2 linked regions of the Homo sapiens genome follow. The protein of the gene in region 1 interacts with the protein of each later gene in a biochemical or structural test. Each region holds a gene or a part of one and is shown on either strand. Other genes may lie near its edges. The genes, in order: TSN and PPP1R15A.

Region 1 (9,948 bases):
CAGACCTACCCTAAAAGAATGGCAAAAAATTCTCTAAATGGGAAAGAAACAATAAGAGAAGGAAACCTTGGAACATTCGGAAGGAAGAAAGAACACAGTAAGCAAAAATATGGGTAAATTCAATAGACTTTCCTTCTCTTGAGTTTTCTAAACGATGTTTGATTGTTGAAGCGAAAATTATAATATTGTCTGATGTGGTTATAACTGTATGTAGAGGAAACATTCAACTATTATTAATGGGGGAGAGTAAAGGGATATAGGGAAATGAAGTTTCTATATTTCACTTGAGCTAATAAAATGATAATACCAGTAGACAGTGATAAATGTCTACACACACACACACACACACACACACACACACAAACACACACACGCAACATTTAGAGTAACCACAAAGCTATGCAAAGAGATCTTTTCAAAAACAGTGCAAAGTGGAATTCTTAAAAATGTTCACAGGAAGGCAGAAAAAGAAAACAGAAATAAAAAACAGAGAACAAACAGAAAGCAAAAAACCAAAATGGCAGACTTAAGTGCTAACAGGTCAATAATAACATCAAATATAAATGGTTTAAATATACCAATTGAAGGACAGAGATTGGTGAGTTAATTTTCCAAAAAAGACCCAACTATATCCTATCTGGAAGAAATTCACTTCAAATATAAAGATATAGGCAATGATAGAGGCAGGTTGAAATTAAAAAATGATAAAACATATATAATCCAAATAATAAAAGGAAAGCAAGAGTGGCTATAAAAATATCAGATAAAATAGACCAGTAGAAAAAAATGATGAGTGACAGAGAGGAACATATAATCATAAAAAGTCTATCCACTAAGAAGACATAATAATCCTAAATGTGTATGTAGCAAGCAACAGAGTTGCAAATTTGTGAAACAAAAACTGACAGAACTGAGAGGGGAAATAAAGAAATCTATGGCCTGGTGCTGTGGCTCATGCCTGTAATCCCAACACTTTGGGAGACTGAGGCGGGTGGATCACGAGGTCAAGAGATCGAGACCAGTCTGGTCAATATGGTAAAACCCCGTCTCTACTAAAAATACAAAAATTAGCTGGGCGTGGTGGTGTGCACCTGTAGTCCCAGCTACTTGGGAGGCTGAGGCAGGAGAATTGCTTGAACCCAGGAGGCGGAGGTTGCAGTGAGTAGATATTGTGCCACTACACTCCAGCCTGGTGACAGAGTGAGACTCCGTCTCAAAAAAAAAAAAAAAATCTATAATTATAGTTAGAGACCCCTCTATTGACAATTGATAGAATAAGGCCAGGTGCAGTGGCTCATGCCTGTAATCCCACCACGTTGGGAGGCCAAAGCAAGAGAACTGCTTGAGCCCAGGAGTTCAGGACCAGCCTGAGCAACACAGTGAGATTCTATCTCTACCAAAAATAAAAAAAATTTAGCTAGGCTGGATGACACACACCTATAGTCCCAGCTACTTGGGAGGCTGAGGTGGGAAGATTGCTTGAGCCCAGTAGGTTAAGGCTGCAGTGAGCTGTGGTCATGTCATTGCACTCCAGCCTGGGTGACAGAGCAAGACCATGTCTCTTAAAAAACCAAAACCAAAACAAGGCCAGGCACAGTGGCTCACGCCTATAATTCCAGCACTTTGGGAGGCGTAGGCAGGAGGATCCCTTGAGGCCAGGAGTTCAAGACTAGCCTGAGCAACATGACCAGACCCCATGTCTACGAAAAAATTAAAAAAAAATTATTAAAGCATGGTGGTGCATACCTGTAGTCCCCACTACTCTGGAAGCTGAGGCAGGAGGATCAATTGAGCTCAGGAGTTCAAGGCTGCAGTGAGCTATGATCATACCACTGTACTTCAGCCTGGGTGATAAAGTAAGACCCTACCTCTAAAAACTAACAAACAAACAAACAATAATAACAACAACAACAACACCCTACAGCTAACATCATAGTTAAGGGTGAGAAACTGGACACTTTGGCTCTAAGGTTGGGAAGAAGGCAAGGATGTCCTTTTTCCATTCCTATCCAATATCTTACTGGAAGTCCTATATAATGCATTAGGACAGGAAAAGGAAATAGGAAGTATATAGATTGGGATGAAGAAATAAAACTATTTGTTCACAGATGAAATGACTGATTCTGTAGAAAATCCCTTAAGAAATTAATAGAACAACTAGACAAATCAGCAGGGCATAGAAGAACTCAACAGCTAAAAGGGCCGAATTGCCACTCCACCCAACAACAGATCCTTTCAATTGCCTGTGGAATATATACTAAGAGAGACCATATTCCGGACTATTTAAACAAAATCTTAACACATTTACGAGAATTGAATCATAGCTCGTTCTCTGACTATATAGATTCAAACTAGCAATCAATAACACAATAACAGAAAAATCTCTAAACACTTGAAAATTAAACCATATACTTCTAGATAATCAATTAGGAAGTCACAAGAGAAATTTAAAAAATACATTGAACTAAATAAAAATGAAACTACAACATACCAAAAATTTGTGGTACACAGCTAAGAGCAGTGCCCAGAGGGAAAGTTAACAGCACTAAAATGCATCCATTAGAAAAGTGGGAAAATCTTAATAATCTAAGCTCCATCTCAAGAACCTAGAAGAGTAAAATAAAACCAAAACGAGCAGAAAGAAGAAAATAATAAAGAGCAGACGGCCGGGTGCGGTGGCTCACACCTGTAATCCCAGCACGTTGGGAGGCCGAGGCGGGCAGATCACGAGGTCAGGAGATCGAGACCATCCTGGCTAACAAGGTGAAACCCTGTCTCTACTAAAAATACAAAAAATTAGTTGGGTGCAGTGGCGAGCGCCTGTAGTCCCAGCTACTCAGGAGGCTGAGGCAGGAGAATGGCGTGAACCCGGGAGGCAGAGCTTGCAGTGAGCCGAGATTGCGCCACTGCACTCCAGCCTGGGCGACAGAGCGAGACTCTGTCTCAAAAAAAAAAGAAAATAATAAAGAGTAGAAATTGATGGAATTGAAACAGAATCGGGCATGGTGGCTTATGCCTGTAATCCCAGCACTTTGGGAGGCTGAGGTGGGTGGGTCACCTGAGGTCAGGAGTTCAAGGCCGGCCCGGGCAACATGGTGAAACCCCATCTCTACTAAAAATACAAAAATCAGCTGGGTGCAGCGGAGCGCGCCTGTAATCCCAGTTACTCGGGAGGCTGAGGCAGGAGAATCATATGAACCCAGGAGGCGGAGGTTGCAGTGAGCCGAGATCACGTCACTGCACTCCACCCCAAGTGACAGAGACTCCATCTCAAAAAAAAAAAAAAATTAAACAGAGAACTAGTTATTTTAAGAGATCAATAAAGTGGATAAACCTCCAGCAAGATTGACAAAGAGAAACAGAGAAAATGGATAAATTCTTTCTATCAGGAATGAAATACAGGGTGGCACTAGAGAGCCTGAAGATGACAAAAGAATATAAGGAAATACTATAAACAACTCTATTCAAATAAATGACTTAGACTAAATGAACCAATTCCTTTAAAAAAACACAGCTACCATAGCTCACCCAATATTAAATAGATACTTTGTAGCCTGGGCAACATAGCCAGACCCCATCTCTACCAAAAAAGACAAAAATTAGCCAGGTGTGGTGGCATGTGCCTATAGTCCCAGCTACTGGGTAGGCTGAGGCAGAAGAATCACCTGCTGACAGAGCGAGACCCCATCTCTTAAAGAAAAAGATACTTTGAGTAGCACTATGACTATTAGGAAATTGAATTTGCAATAAAAATTCCCCAAAAGAGATCTCCAAAGAAGGTTTCGTTGGAGAAGGTTTCAGCAGAGAATTCTACAACTACTTAAAGAACAAACAGCAATCTGCATAAGCTCTTCCAGATAATAGACCAGAAGGGAACACTTTCCAGTTCTTTATGAAGCTAGTATTGGGAAGGAAAAGCTTTCTCTTTATTATATTTTGTTCAGTTTATGGGGGCCTCCAAAAAATTATTTATTTGAGGCAGGGTCTCACTCTGTCACCCAGGCTTGAGTGCAGTGGCACAATCATGGCTCACTGCAGCCGTGGCATCCTGAGCTCAAGTGATCCTCCCACCTCAGCCTCTGAAGTAGCTGGGACCACAGGCATGCGCTACCATGTTCAGCCAATTTTCAAAACATTTTTTGTAGAGATGGCGGTCTCACTATGTTGCCCAGGCTGGTCTCGAACTCTTGGGCTCAAGTGATCCTCCTCGTTAGCCTCTTAAAGTGGTGGGATTACAGGTGTGAGCCACCATGCCCAGCCAGGGCCTGCAAATTAAACTGACAAAAGACAGATTAACGGAACAGAAAATCAGCATGGGCATATAAGAACTCAACAACACCATCGACTAATAGGGTCTAATTAAACTTTTTATAGGACACTCCCAAAAAAGGCTTATTTGCATGGATGCTGGAGCTAGCAAAATAAGTAGCTAGCCTACTAAATGGTTAGAGGTTTATGTCTGGGCGCAGTGGTTGATACCTGTAATCCCAGCATTTTGAAAGGCTGAGGCAGGAGGATTTCTTGAGCCCAGGAGTTCAAGACCCGACTGGGCAACGTAATGAGACCAAAAAATGAAACAGAACAAAACAACAATAACGAAAACCACACAAGAAAAGAAAGAAACAAAAAACCAGTTAGTGGCTTGTGTGCCTAACTCTAGGTAAAACGGAGAGGTGACGAAAGTTTGTATGAGAACAAATAGGATTCTTTAGGACAGACGAATGGGTTTTGGGAGAACAAACACGAGATAAGAAAGGGTTTTTTATTTTTTTTGAGACGGAGTCTGTTGCCCAGGCTATAGTGCAGTGGTGTGATCTCGGCTAACTGCAACCTGTGCCTCCCGGGTTCAAGCGATTCTTCTGCCTCAGTCTCCCGAGTTGCCGGGATTACAGGCGCGCGCCACCACGCCCGGCTAGTTTTTGTATCTTTAGTAGAGACGGAGTTTCACCATGTTGGTCAGGCTGGTCTCGAACTCCTGACTTTGTGATCTGCCCGCCTTGGCCTCCCAAAGTGTTGGGATTACAGGTGTGAGCCACTGCGCCCGGCCGATAGTTTTTTAAAAATGTAGGTGCTAGTGGTCTTACTGTCTTCTTCATGGACATGAAATTATTCTCATATAATGAGAATTAAATATGATCCTTCATGTAAAGAGTTTAGAATAATGTCAGAAACAAAGCAAGCAATAAATTATCATTTAGTTGATAAGAATCATTCCAATTCATCTGGCGAGTGCAACACACACACACACTGTATTTGTGTATGGAATAACTGTTCAAGAACACACACACAGTATGTGTGTATGAAATAACTCTTCAAGAACAAAGGGGAAACCGTTATAGGGCATGAAAGGGGAAACCGTTATAGGGCATGGAAGGGGAATTAGGACAAGGTGTGAGTGGAAAGAGAAACATCCCACCGCACACGCTTAAAAAAGCCGTTTAATTTAAAAATAGGTAATACAGCCATACAGAGAAGACATTAAAAGATCTACACAGAAAATTTTCGCTCCCAATCCATTCCCTACTCACAGTCCTACATACGTTACTTTTATTTTCCTTTTTTTTGGAAATGCACTGGCCCCCTACTCTCTCACGAAGGCTGAACTCTCTCTACATTCTTCTGCACCTGTTTTTTGTGCATACTCTTTCGTTGTCAAATATTTCCCTCCAACTGTTGTTGTGTATGAAATAAATACACACATATAAGCTAACCAGCCCCACTTGCCCGCACCACCTACACGCCCGTCCCCGCCCTCCCTCAGGCCCACGTGCTCCGAGGGCCGCCTTCGCAGGTTGTTTCTGGCGATGCCTGTCTGAAGGCCTCAGACTGAGGCCCCGCCCACTCTCCCTCTCCTCTGCCCTTTGGACGCGCGCCTCGGTTCCGAACGCAGCGGACGGCGCCTCAGGCAGCGCGGCGGACAGCCCGTCCTCCGGCGCGCCGCGAGCCTCGGAGGACCCTAGCGACGGTCGTGGCGTAAGACCGGGGGGACGCGGCGGTAGCGGCGGCCGTTGCGATTGATTGCGCTGGTTGCCTGCGGCGTCCACTTCCTTGGCCGCCCTTGCTACACTGGCTGATTGTTGTGCAGCCGGCGCCATGTCTGTGAGCGAGATCTTCGTGGAGCTGCAGGGCTTTTTGGCTGCCGAGCAGGACATCCGAGAGGCGAGCCCCCTCCCTTCCCCATTCCCTTTGCCTTTCCATGCCTAGTTGGGCCACTTCGCCCGGCCCTCCTCTGTCGCTCAGTCTCGGGCGGTGGGGACGCCTCCGAGGGTGGGTTGCTTCCCCTCTAGCTTTAGGTTAGGCACTCCCCGCCCCCGCCCAAAATTTTGCTGCTCTGTCCTGATTCCCCGTGTTCGAGTCTCAGCTTCTCAGCATCACTTGCCTCGTTTGTGTCAGTTTTCCTTCTTTTCAGCACTTGTTTATATCGAAGGCTCGATTAGCACCTGGTCTTCAGCGAATGAGCGTTTCGTGTATTTTTGTTGGTGTCTTAAAAGCACATGTGATCTGCTTAAAACTCTCCTGTGATTTCCTATGCCACACAGGATAAAAAATCAGACTCTACTGTGGCTCACATGGTTTCTCTTCAATCTCGTTTATGCTCTCTGTCTTTGTGTATGATGTTCACTTTACCTCTTCTAGTGCCCCAAATAGCTTCCTGCCTGTTTGCTTTTCCTGGAATTTGCTTCTTTCCCGTTCTTTTCCTGATTGTCTCGTATTTATCTCATTGGCGTCACAGTCTAAGCGATCTATTTCCTGTTATGTTTTCTAGTAGCACATTAACTTTTTTTAATGTGTGTAATATTGATTATTTTAAAAAAATCTTCTCCCTCATTGTATGTTAAACCGCCAGAGGGAAGGGATTGTGTGCTTGGTTCCCCGGTATTTACACAGTGCCTCGCACATAAGTATGCTCAGTGAATATTTTAAAAATGAATTAGAGGCGGGGAGCGGCGCCTCATGCCTGTAATTCCAGCATTTTGGGAGGCCGAGGCGGCCAGATCACCTGAGGTAAGGAGTTTGAGACCAGCCTGGCCAACATGGGGAAACCCTGTCTCTACTAAAAATATAAAAGAACATTAACTGGGCATGGTTGCGCACACCTGTAATCCCAGCTACTCGGGAGGCTGAAGCAGGAGAATGGCGTGAACCCGGGAGGCGGAGGTTGCGGTGAGCTGAGATCGCGCCACTGCACTCCAGCCTGGGTGACAGAGCGAGACTCCGTCTCAAAAAAAAAAAAAAAAAGAAAAAAGAATTAGAAATACCCGACTCTTGTGTTGCATTTAACTCTTCATTTTGCAAGTTGCGTTCACACACGTCATCCATTATAATGTCCCAATTGAATACTTGGGTTTAATGGGTGGCTATTATTCTTTAAAGGGTATCTGAGGAATCTAAGGCTTTTTAGTGACTTTTTGAAGTCTTACAGAGGAAATAAGTGGAAAAGTCAGGATTCAAACTTGGTTATGATAGATCACATAAGCTATCTAATGTGTTTTGTGTGAGTGTATGACAATGATTCTGTTGAGTATCTGATTTTTATTTTTAATTCTCTCTAGGAAATCAGAAAAGTTGTACAGAGTTTAGAACAAACAGCTCGAGAGATTTTAACTCTACTGCAAGGGGTCCATCAGGGTGCTGGGTTTCAGGACAGTAAGTTCTTTGTTTTGTATCCAATTATCAGTCTCTTATTTAGAGGGAGAGTTTCTATCCAGAAGACATTTTATAATGAAAAATGGCTATCATGCTTTATGGTGAGTAAAAATTGAAGAAGTAGGTGATTTGATAATTTTGGTTGATTTTTCTTCCACTTCCACACAGTATGGTTTAAACAGAGATGTTTTCTATTGCGAGGGCATTCTACTGATGATAATTACAATTGCTTAACCCATTTCCTGTTTAGAAAAAAAAAGTGCAGCTCTCTGCCAGCACAGTATTCTCAGGGTAAGCGGGAAAAGGGTTTATTATTATTTTTTTAATTTTTTTTTTTTCTGAGACGGAGTTTCACTCTTGTTGCCCAGGCTGGAGTGCAGTGGTGCCATCTCAGCTCACTGCAACCTCCGCCTCCTGGGTTCAAGCAATTCTCCTGCCTCAGCCTCCTGAGTAGCTGGTGTTACAGGTGCCCGCCATCACGCCCAGCTACTTTTTTTTTTTTTGGTATTTTTATTAGAGATGGGGTTTCACTTTGTTGGCCAGGCTGGTCTTGCACTCCTGACCTCAGATGATCCGCCTGGCTGGGCCTCTCAAAGTGCTGGGATTACAGGCGTGAGCCACTGCACCTGGCCCAAGGGTTTGTAACTCTTTTGTGTTATCTAGTGACTTTTATTTGGCCCTTTGTGTGTGTGTGTGTGTATGTGTGTATGTGTGTATATGCACCTGTGTGTATTTGAATCCAGCCTTTCAGTGATTGAATACCTTTTAATATGAGATTAACAGTATAAAATGTTCTCAAATTAATGTGTTTATAATCAGCCTCTTGAATGAAAATAAAATATGTCAAGTTTAGACATGGAACCTTCATTGTAAGGTATTGCCAGCACAGCTAAAGGAGCTGAAGTATATTTTCAGATACAAGAATGATATAATAATGCATTTACACGTGCCAGAGGCAAGTGATTTTTCTTAATGATACGGAGTTGGTCATCCTGATTGTGAATACTTGGTAAAGGCTTTTTTCTGCCAAATATGGGAGGAAGAAGCAATCCAATTTTAGGCATCCTCTGAGGAGTGAACAGGAATAGCAGCTGGTGTGCATCTCCTTAAGGATGACGTTATTTATGACAACCAAACCAATTACCAGTGTGTCTCCTAATATATTCCCTTTTAGCAAGTTGTTTATTTTTCAGTATAGCTAATTAGTAGGGAAACTGGGGATGATATTTTGAAAGCCAGGTTGAAAAGCACAGATGTGTACGTTAGTTGTGAGGTTTTTTTGTTGATTAATTTCCAGATAGATTACTTAGATTATTAAGCAAGAACTGTATTTGAAATTTGGTTAAGTTTTTCATTTGGTTATCTTTTGTGACTAGTTCCAAAGAGGTGTTTGAAAGCTCGAGAACATTTTGGTACAGTAAAAACACATCTAACATCTTTGAAGACCAAATTTCCTGCTGAACAGTATTACAGGTTTGTAAGAAAAATAGCATTATTTTATAATGTTAAGTAAAAAAAAGGAGAAAAATTATGTGTACCAAATGATTGCTTACAACTAGGCAAACATCCTGTGTAGAAGTAACAAAAAGAGAAAAAACCGAACTAATAATGGTCATGACAAAAATTGGTGATTTTATTTTTTTCTTCTTTTTACTGTCTAAATCTTAAGGAACATGTATTACTTTTGCAGTGAAAAAGCAATTAAAAAGAAAATGTGGTATGAGGGTCAAAAGTGAGAATATCTTTTTGCTATATTCAAGTTTCTTGTGAAATTGGATGAACTATAGTTAGTGAAATAATGAGATTAGGTGGCAGTATATATATGGAGTCGAGTTTTACTTTGAAGCTTGAATTTCACTGCCAAGTGATGTAATTAGCTAATATTTTATGCCATGTTTTCTTATTAAAATCAACACTGTTGATTTTAAGATACACCATTATTTTATGTACCAGTAGGGAAGGAAAATTTTGCCAGTCATAAATGTGAAACATGGGCCAGGCGTGGTGGCTCACACCTGTAATCCTAGCACTTTGGGAGGCCTAGGTGGGCAGATCACCTGAGGTCAGGAGTTTGAGACAGCCTGGCTAGCATGGCGAAACCCCGTCTCTACTAAAAATACGAAAATTAGCCAGGTGTGGTGGCTTATCCCTGTAACCCCAGCCACTTCAGAGGCTGAGGCAGGAGAATCGCTTGAACCAGGCAGGCGGAGGTTGCAGTGAGCCAAGATTGTGCCATTGCACTCCAGCCTGGGCAACAGAGTGAGACTCCATCTAAAAAAAAAAAACAACTTGTGAAACATG
Region 2 (9,523 bases), on another chromosome or scaffold:
GCCCACAGATATCTCAGGCATCCTTAGCCAGGTCCCGACAATATGCCCTTCCTTGGAAGCGGTGGTACTGACCAAGGCTGAGATCAGATCTCTGGGCTCTGAACTTGAGAAACAATATGTGTGGAACGGCAGGAGGAAAAAGAAATGAGTGTCTCCCTAAGCTTTTGGCTGGGATGCCGATTTGGGATGCAAGTATCTGGAGGCCCCTTGGGTCTTATTGTCAGAGAAGGGTCTCTCCTTATAGGATTTCATTAGTGGGTAGATTGGATGGCGAGAGATAGGACAGCAAGTTCTGGCACTAATCAAGAGCAGCCACTACTTCTCAGAACTCGAGGGGCCTCATGGCTGGGGAGCGGCTTTATCTTAGCAACCAGGGTCAAGGGAGGTTGTTACTCTGGTTTAGAATTAGGAAAATACAAAGGGTGGGGACAGAGCTGGGAGTGCCTCTGAATTCCTAGCTGCGGTGTGTAGGCAATTTGGGACCTTACTATGTCTGGCAGACCCCGTTGCTAAGGATCTTTGTCCTTAACAACCAGAGTCCTTGGGGAAACAGAAGGATGGGCGGCCCAGAGCCCCACCTTCCTCCCCATCCCCGCCAGGAAGCTCAAACCTTGGGGCTCAGGCTGCTGAGCGAGGAGATGGTGGAGGCGCTGCTGGCCAGGCTCAGGCTGCTGCGAGGTCGGCTCCCCTCCATCAAGGGCTGGGGGAGAGAAAGAAAGGGGCTGTGTCTCTGCAGTGACGGGTGTGAGACAGAGATGGGGTCAGGGGCTTGGAGGTCGGAGGAGGCTGCAGAGAAAGAGCCTGTTGTTTCGGGACTTGGGGGGCTGGGGGAGGCCATGGCCCGTGACCACATACCAAGAGTGGTGCCAAGAGAGGTAGGCGGCCCTGGCAGCTGCGGGAGGGGGCAGCTGTCTGCAGCCCAGGCCAGAGAATAGGGGCTTCTTTATTCCTGCCCACTGCACTCAGGCCAGGAATTTGACCCTCTCTGTGCTTAGGGACTCCCCATTCCCTGCCTCCTTCCGGCTGCCCCAGGCTACCTGTCTCCCGCCCTCCCACATGCACCCCCAAACCACCCCTGCCAACTCCCCAAGCCAAGCCCTGCGGCACCAGGAATGTGAACCCAGAGAGCCCCTCCCAGCCCAGCCAGGGAACTTACCCAGCTCTGGGGTCCCAGTGACGGGGGGGCAAGAGGACGGTGTGGGTGCTGCGGCACCTAGGCAGTCTCCCGCCTCCTTTGTCTCTTAGCTGCTGTCTCTCATAGTTCTCAATCTCTCTCCTCACCTGCTCACTCACACTTTTTGTCTCTTTGTCTCCTGTCTCTTACGGTCTCTCTCTCTCTCTCTTCCTTTTACACTACCTCTCTCCCCACTCTCACTTTCTGTGTCTCCCTCTGATCTCTGTCTCTTCCAGTCTCTCTCTCACTCATTCTCTCCCTCTCTCTCTCTCTCCAATCTTTCTGTTTCTGTCCAAATCTTTTATTGTCAGACTCACAGGGTCTCTTCCTTAAGTCTCTGTCTCATTCTCTCTCTCTCTCTCTCTCTGTCTCTCAGTCATCCCCTGTGTCCTCTCTCCTTCACACTCAGTCTCTTCCTCTTTCTCTCTGGCTCTGCCGTTTCCTCCCTTTTCTCTTTCCGATTTCCCTTCTCACTTTCTCCCTTCCTCCCTCTCCCAGTTTCTCTTTCCTCTCTGCTGGTCTTTCCCTGCCTCTGCCAGCCGCCCACGCTGCTGTTCTCCCCTCCCAATCCCGGCTGTCCCCGCCCCTTCTGGCCTCCCCACTACAGCCTGACCTCTGGCTCAGCTGCCCCCATAGCTGAAGGGAGGGGCTTGGGCCCCCCAATTCCCAGGTCCCCTAAGGACCAAGGTTGGGACTTCTCAGTGTTTGGAGAGTTGGACTTGAGGCCTGCACTCCAGGGCCCCCGTGGGTTTGCTGCTGTGGTTGGGGGCCTGAGCCACTGGTGTCCTAAACGGAGGAGGCTTGTGTCCTGCAAGGGGTGGGGACTCAAATTTCCAAAGCCCTGGAGGGAATGGGTTAGGGATCCAGACTCCTGGGTGCCCGAGAAGGTCTGAGCTAGGATCAGGACTCCTGAGTCGTGAAAGAGCTGGGGGTCTGGAAACATGGCTGTGCTTGGAAGGGGCCAGGGACGGTTTGTCCAGGTCCCCTAGGGAGAAAAGGGGATGGTCCCAGTAGGGCAGGGTGAAATGGAGAGTTCCAAACCTCCACCTCAGATCCAGGTGAGAATTCTCTTCTAGACTGAGGACAACTCCCTCAGGAGAGAGACATGATTCCTTGGTATATTTTGAGGAACAAGATTATGCATCCGTAGGCAGGGGAGGAGAGCGGGGGGCTGGAACTGTCACCCAGGGCCTGGAACTTGTAGCAGAAGCGCCCCCACCCGCACAAAGAGTGCCACCCAGGCAGAATCGCGGCTTGTGGGGGCAGAGCTACTGCCTAAGTCTGAAGCAGATGACACCCAGGAGTGGAGCCTTGTGCCTGTGACCGGGAAGGAATCTGAGCTTTCGGTTTAACTGCCATTCACCATGCACCTGTTGAGCACCTACTGTGTGCAGGCACTGTCTGTTGCAGCCACTGAGAAGAAAGCAGTGAGCCCTGGCTGGGTGCAATGGCTCACGCCTGTAATCCCAGCACTTTGGGAGGCCAAGGCAGGAGGATCGCTTGAGACCAGGAGTTCAACACCAGCCTGGGCATCATAGCGAGACCTTGTCTCTATTTAGAAAATGAATTTCTTTTTTTTTTTTTTTTGAGGCGGTGTTTTGCTCTGTCGCCAGGCTGGAGTGCAGTGGCGTGATCTCGGCTCACTGCAACCTCCGCCTCCCGGGTTCAAGCGATTCTCCTGACTCAGCCTCCTGAGTAGCTGGAACTACAGGCACATGCCACTGCACCCGGCCTAAATTAATTATTATTATTATTTTTTTGAGACGGAGTCTCGCTCTGTCGCCCAGGCTGGAGTACAGTGGCACGATCTCAGCTCACTGCAAGCTCTGCCTCCCAGGTTCACGCCATTCTCCTGCCTCAGCCTCCCGAGTAGCTGGGACTACAGGTGCCCACCACCACGCCCGGCTAATTTATTTTGTATTTTTAGTGGAGGCGGGGTTTCACCGTGTTAGCCAGGATGGTCTTGATCTCCTGACCTCATGATCCACCTGCCTCAGCGTCCCAAAGTGCTAGGATTACAGGCGTGAGCCACCGCGCTCAGCCTAATTACTTTTTTTTGAAAAGCATTGAGCCCAGCAAAGTGCCTGATCTCATAGTGCTTACATCCTCATTCTCATTTGCAAGGAATCTGGACCCTGCTGTGACTATCTTGGTCAAGTGGCTTCATTTCCAAGCCTGTTTCCCCATCTGTGAAATGGGAACAATGACACCCTCGCACTCGGGGAGGAAACCAACCACATGTGAAAATAGGAGACTCTAGCCAGGCGTGGTGGCAAGCTCCTGTACTCCCAACTACTCAGGAGGCTGAGGCAGGAGAATTGCTTGAACCCGGGAGGCGGAGGTTGCAGTGAGCCAAGATCATGCCATTGCACTCCAGCCTGGGTGACAGAGTGAGACACCGTCTCAAAAAAAAAAAAAAAAAAAGAAAGAAAAAGAAAAAAGAAAGAAAAGAAAAAAAAAAGAAAATGGGAGACTCTAGGCTGGGGCCTGTGGGCTAAATTGGGGTAGGAGGCCAGGCACAGTGGATCACAACTGTAATTCCAGCACTTTGGGAAGCCAAGGCGGGCAGATCACCTGAGGTCAGGAGTTCAAGACCAGCCTGGTCGGCCGGGTGCGGTGGCTCACACCTGTAATCCCAGCACTTTGGGAGGCCGAGGCGGGTGGATCACAAGGTCAGGAGATCGAGACCATCCTGGTTAACACGGTGAAAAACCCCGTCTCTACTAAGAATACAAAAAAAATTAGCCGGGCGTGGTGGTGGGCACCTGTAGTCCCAGCTACTAGGGAGGCTGAGGCAGGAGAATGGCGAGAACCAGGGAGGAGGAGCTTGCAGTGAGCCAAGATCGTGCCACTGCACTCCAGCCTGGGCGACAGAGCAAGACTCCGTCTCAAAAAAAAAAAAAAAAAAAAAGACCTGCCTGGTCAACATGGCGAAACACTGTCTCTACTAAAAATACAAAAATTACCCAGGCATTGTGGCACATGCCTGTAATCCCAGCTACTCCAGAGGCTCAGGCAGGAGAATCGCTGGAACCCAGGAGGTGGAGGTTGCAGTGAACCGAGATGGCGCCACTGAACTCCAGCCTGGGCGACAGAGTGAGACGCCTACTCAAAAAATAAATAGGCTGGGTGCAGTAGCTCACGCCTATAATCCTAACACTTTGGGAAGCCGAGGCAGGCAGACTGCCTGAGCTCAGGAGTTCGAGAACAGCCTGGGCAACATGGCGAAACACTGTCTCTACTAAAAATACAAAAAATTAGCTGAGTGTGGTAGTGCGTGCCTGTAATCCCAGCTACTCGGAGGCTGAAGAGGGAGAATCGCTTGAACCCGGAAGATGGAGGTTGCAGTGAGCCGAGATCACGCCATTGCACTCCAGCCTCGGTGACAGAGCGAGACTCCATCTCAAAAAAAAATAAAAAAATAAAAAATAACAAATAAATAAATAGGCCTGGAGTGGTGGCTCACGCCTGCAATCCCAGCACTTTGGGAGGCCAAGGCAGGCAGAACACCTGAGGTCAGGAGTTCGAGACCAGCCTAGCAAACATGGTGAAATCCCGTCTCAGAAAAATAAATAATGAATAAATAAATAAATAAATAGGCCGGGCGCGGTGACTCACGCCTGTAATCCCAGCACTTTGGGAGGCCAAGGCGGGAGGATCCCCTGACGTCGGGAGTTCCAGACCAGCCTGACCAACATGGAGAAACTACGTCTCTACTAAACAAATACAAAATTAGCCGGGCGTGGCGGCACATGCCTGCAATCCCAGCACTTTGGGAGGCCAAGGCGGGAGGATCCCCTGACGTCGGGAGTTCCAGACCAGCCTGACCAACATGGAGAAACTACGTCTCTACTAAACAAATACAAAATTAGCCGGGCGTGGCGGCACATGCCTGCAATCCCAGATACTCGGGATGCTGAGGCAGGAGAATCGCTTGAACCCCGAAGGCGGAGGTTGCGGTGAGCCGAGATCGCCCCTTTGCATTCCAGCCTGAGCAACAAGAGCAAAACTCCGCCTCAAAATAACTAACTAAATAAATAAATAAATTGGGGTGGGAAGGCATTGACCCTGAGCTGAGAGAGAACTGGCTCGCTGTTGAAGCAGGGCCACGCATTTGATTGACAGTTCGTTTGTTGGAGGGGCGTGGTCACGCTCGGAAACTCCGCCGTGACGTTGCAAAAGCTGGAATCTCCGCGAGAAGTCCTGTCTTACTTCCACTTCCCACCCTTCGGGTTGCGGTCTCGAAACCCCGCCTCTCTTCGTGACGTCAGCACGCCGGGCGCGGTAGGCTATAAAAGCCTAGTGGCCATTGTGTTCGTTGCTCTTATCGGTTCCCATCCCAGTTGTTGATCTTATGCAAGACGCTGCACGACCCCGCGCCCGCTTGTCGCCACGGCACTTGAGGCAGCCGGAGATACTCTGAGTTACTCGGAGCCCGACGCCTGAGGGTGAGATGAACGCGCTGGCCTCCCTAACCGTCCGGACCTGTGATCGCTTCTGGCAGACCGAACCGGCGCTCCTGCCCCCGGGGTGACGCGCAGCTCCCAGCCGGTGAGTAAGGGGTCGGAACGCCTGGGTCCCCACGGGGCTGGGGGCCCGGATTTAGAAAGGAGAAGGGGTTGGGAGCCTGGAGTCCTGAGCCTGAGGGAGGAGGGATCTGGAAGCCAGATTCTTGGGTCCCCCGTGAAGGAATCATCTGCCAAGTAGGGGGTCGGGTCAGAATGTTTCAGTCTGCGAGGGAGGAGGGTGTGAGGGTTTGATTTGTCAATCTTCAGCAGAATGAGAGAGCTAGGGACTATGACTTTGTCGCCAAGGGAAGCAAGTAAAGACTTTTGTTCTTGGTTCTTGGGACTGGGAGTTCTGCGTCTGAAGAAAGAGAGGGCTGGGGGCTTGGACCCTTGGATCTAAGGCAGAACTAGGGGCTCAGACTCCTGGCTATTGAGAGATAAGAACAGAGCCAAGGGACAGAGATGGGCGTGGCCGAGATCAGAAAGGAATTTGGGACTCTCGCGTTGCTATTTACAATAGTTGTGTTACTATTTCCGTTGCTATGACTCATAGTCACGCCCGGATGCCATCCTCTAAATGGCCCCTAAACTTTATTTTTTTCTCCCCCTTTTCCAGCCCAGACACATGGCCCCAGGCCAAGCACCCCATCAGGCTACCCCGTGGAGGGATGCCCACCCTTTCTTCCTCCTGTCCCCAGTGATGGGCCTCCTCAGCCGCGCCTGGAGCCGCCTGAGGGGCCTGGGACCTCTAGAGCCCTGGCTGGTGGAAGCAGTAAAAGGAGCAGCTCTGGTAGAAGCTGGCCTGGAGGGAGAAGCTAGGACTCCTCTGGCAATCCCCCATACCCCTTGGGGCAGACGCCCTGAAGAGGAGGCTGAAGACAGTGGAGGCCCTGGAGAGGACAGAGAAACACTGGGGCTGAAAACCAGCAGTTCCCTTCCTGAAGCCTGGGGACTTTTGGATGATGATGATGGCATGTATGGTGAGCGAGAGGCAACCAGTGTCCCTAGAGGGCAGGGAAGTCAATTTGCAGATGGCCAGCGTGCTCCCCTGTCTCCCAGCCTTCTGATAAGGACACTGCAAGGTTCTGATAAGAACCCAGGGGAGGAGAAAGCCGAGGAAGAGGGAGTTGCTGAAGAGGAGGGAGTTAACAAGTTCTCTTATCCACCATCACACCGGGAGTGTTGTCCAGCCGTGGAGGAGGAGGACGATGAAGAAGCTGTAAAGAAAGAAGCTCACAGAACCTCTACTTCTGCCTTGTCTCCAGGATCCAAGCCCAGCACTTGGGTGTCTTGCCCAGGGGAGGAAGAGAATCAAGCCACGGAGGATAAAAGAACAGAAAGAAGTAAAGGAGCCAGGAAGACCTCCGTGTCCCCCCGATCTTCAGGCTCCGACCCCAGGTCCTGGGAGTATCGTTCAGGAGAGGCGTCCGAGGAGAAGGAGGAAAAGGCACACAAAGAAACTGGGAAAGGAGAAGCTGCCCCAGGGCCGCAATCCTCAGCCCCAGCCCAGAGGCCCCAGCTCAAGTCCTGGTGGTGCCAACCCAGTGATGAAGAGGAGGGTGAGGTCAAGGCTTTGGGGGCAGCTGAGAAGGATGGAGAAGCTGAGTGTCCTCCCTGCATCCCCCCACCAAGTGCCTTCCTGAAGGCCTGGGTGTATTGGCCAGGAGAGGACACAGAGGAAGAGGAAGATGAGGAAGAAGATGAGGACAGTGACTCTGGATCAGATGAGGAAGAGGGAGAAGCTGAGGCTTCCTCTTCCACTCCTGCTACAGGTGTCTTCTTGAAGTCCTGGGTCTATCAGCCAGGAGAGGACACAGAGGAGGAGGAAGATGAGGACAGTGATACAGGATCAGCCGAGGATGAAAGAGAAGCTGAGACTTCTGCTTCCACACCCCCTGCAAGTGCTTTCTTGAAGGCCTGGGTGTATCGGCCAGGAGAGGACACGGAGGAGGAGGAAGATGAGGATGTGGATAGTGAGGATAAGGAAGATGATTCAGAAGCAGCCTTGGGAGAAGCTGAGTCAGACCCACATCCCTCCCACCCGGACCAGAGGGCCCACTTCAGGGGCTGGGGATATCGACCTGGAAAAGAGACAGAGGAAGAGGAAGCTGCTGAGGACTGGGGAGAAGCTGAGCCCTGCCCCTTCCGAGTGGCCATCTATGTACCTGGAGAGAAGCCACCGCCTCCCTGGGCTCCTCCTAGGCTGCCCCTCCGACTGCAAAGGCGGCTCAAGCGCCCAGAAACCCCTACTCATGATCCGGACCCTGAGACTCCCCTAAAGGCCAGAAAGGTAGGTGCTGAGAGCCCAGATTCTATTTTTTTTTTTTTTTTAATTGAGTTGGAGTCTTGGGCTGTCACCCAGGCTGGAGTGCAGCGGCATGATCTTGGCTCACTGCCAACCTCTGCCGCCCAAGTTCAGGCGATTCTCGTGCCTCAGCCTCCAGAGTATCTGGGATTACAGGCGCATGACACCACACCCAGCTAATTTTTTTTGTATTTTTAGTAGAGACGGGGGTTTTGCCATGTTGGCCAGGCTGGTCTCAAACTCCTGACATCACGTGATCCACCCATCTCAGCCTCCCAAAGTGCTGGGATTACAGGCGTGAGCTACCACATCTGGCTGAGAGCCCAGATTCTTGAGTCTTAGAAAGAAAGGGGGCTGGGGGCCGAGACTTCTGGGTCCCTGTATGTTGCAGAGGGTTGCATGTCATCTCCATGGAGAAGGCTGTGTACGCTGTCACGCAATCCCTTGTAAGAGGCCAGGCCCCTGGGGGAGGAGGGAGCAGCTGTGGCTCACAGCAGCCCCAGGAAACCACCTCTTCCTTCAGTGAGTCAGATAGATAGAGAATCCCGTGACAGTGACAGGCAAGTGACTAGCCAGATAGAAAGCATTTTTGTGTAATAACTAATTTTTGTTTGCTTCTCTCTCTCTCTTCCCCGCCCTCCCCATCCGGATTCCCGTGGCTGTGTGCATCTCCTGCCTGTGTCCCCATGTCTGCCCGCAGGTGCGCTTCTCCGAGAAGGTCACTGTCCATTTCCTGGCTGTCTGGGCAGGGCCGGCCCAGGCCGCCCGCCAGGGCCCCTGGGAGCAGCTTGCTCGGGATCGCAGCCGCTTCGCACGCCGCATCACCCAGGCCCAGGAGGAGCTGAGCCCCTGCCTCACCCCTGCTGCCCGGGCCAGAGCCTGGGCACGCCTCAGGAACCCACCTTTAGCCCCCATCCCTGCCCTCACCCAGACCTTGCCTTCCTCCTCTGTCCCTTCGTCCCCAGTCCAGACCACGCCCTTGAGCCAAGCTGTGGCCACACCTTCCCGCTCGTCTGCTGCTGCAGCGGCTGCCCTGGACCTCAGTGGGAGGCGTGGCTGAGACCAACTGGTTTGCCTATAATTTATTAACTATTTATTTTTTCTAAGTGTGGGTTTATATAAGGAATAAAGCCTTTTGATTTGTAGCGAGCAGCGTCTGTATGTGTCAGAAACTGACAGCATTCTACTTACAGGTCCCTGAGGGAGCTGGGAAGAGAATAGCATAAAACAAAGCACTTCAATGGCGGATAAACCGCTTTTCCTCAAATTTGCTACCACTCATCCTGAGGCTTCTTTTGAACCTAACAGTGCAGGGACCAGCCCCACAGGGTCGGTGGGCTTCTCCCTGTGTGCGGCGACGAGAGAGTGTAGAAATAAAGATACAAGACAAAGAGATAAAAGAAAAGACAGCTGGGCCCGGGGGATTACTACCACCAATGCGCGGAGACCAGTAGTGGCCCCGAATGTCTGGCTGCGCTGATATTTACTGGATACAAAGCAAAAGGGGCAGGGTAAGGAGTGTGAGTCATCTCCAAT

Evidence for each region.
Region 2: the proteins of TSN (region 1) and PPP1R15A form a complex in vitro, tested with the Homo sapiens proteins (one study listed by BioGRID).

Annotation. Positions count from the first base shown.
Region 1 is NC_000002.12:121,749,687-121,759,634, forward strand, and holds the start of TSN (translin), read left to right. Parts: upstream 1-5,964; 5' UTR 5,965-6,093; coding exon 6,094-6,159; exon of another isoform or gene 6,160-6,267; intron 6,268-7,553; coding exon 7,554-7,647; intron 7,648-9,023; coding exon 9,024-9,120; intron 9,121-9,948. UniProt on the Homo sapiens protein: DNA-binding protein that specifically recognizes consensus sequences at the breakpoint junctions in chromosomal translocations, mostly involving immunoglobulin (Ig)/T-cell receptor gene segments.
Region 2 is NC_000019.10:48,866,927-48,876,449, forward strand, and holds PPP1R15A (protein phosphatase 1 regulatory subunit 15A), read left to right. Parts: upstream 1-5,494; 5' UTR 5,495-5,725; intron 5,726-6,298; 5' UTR 6,299-6,307; coding exon 6,308-7,972; intron 7,973-8,687; coding exon 8,688-9,047; 3' UTR 9,048-9,132; downstream 9,133-9,523. Other genes in the region: PLEKHA4 (pleckstrin homology domain-containing family A member 4), read right to left, coding at 611-694. UniProt on the Homo sapiens protein: Recruits the serine/threonine-protein phosphatase PPP1CA to prevents excessive phosphorylation of the translation initiation factor eIF-2A/EIF2S1, thereby reversing the shut-off of protein synthesis initiated by stress-inducible kinases and facilitating recovery of cells from stress.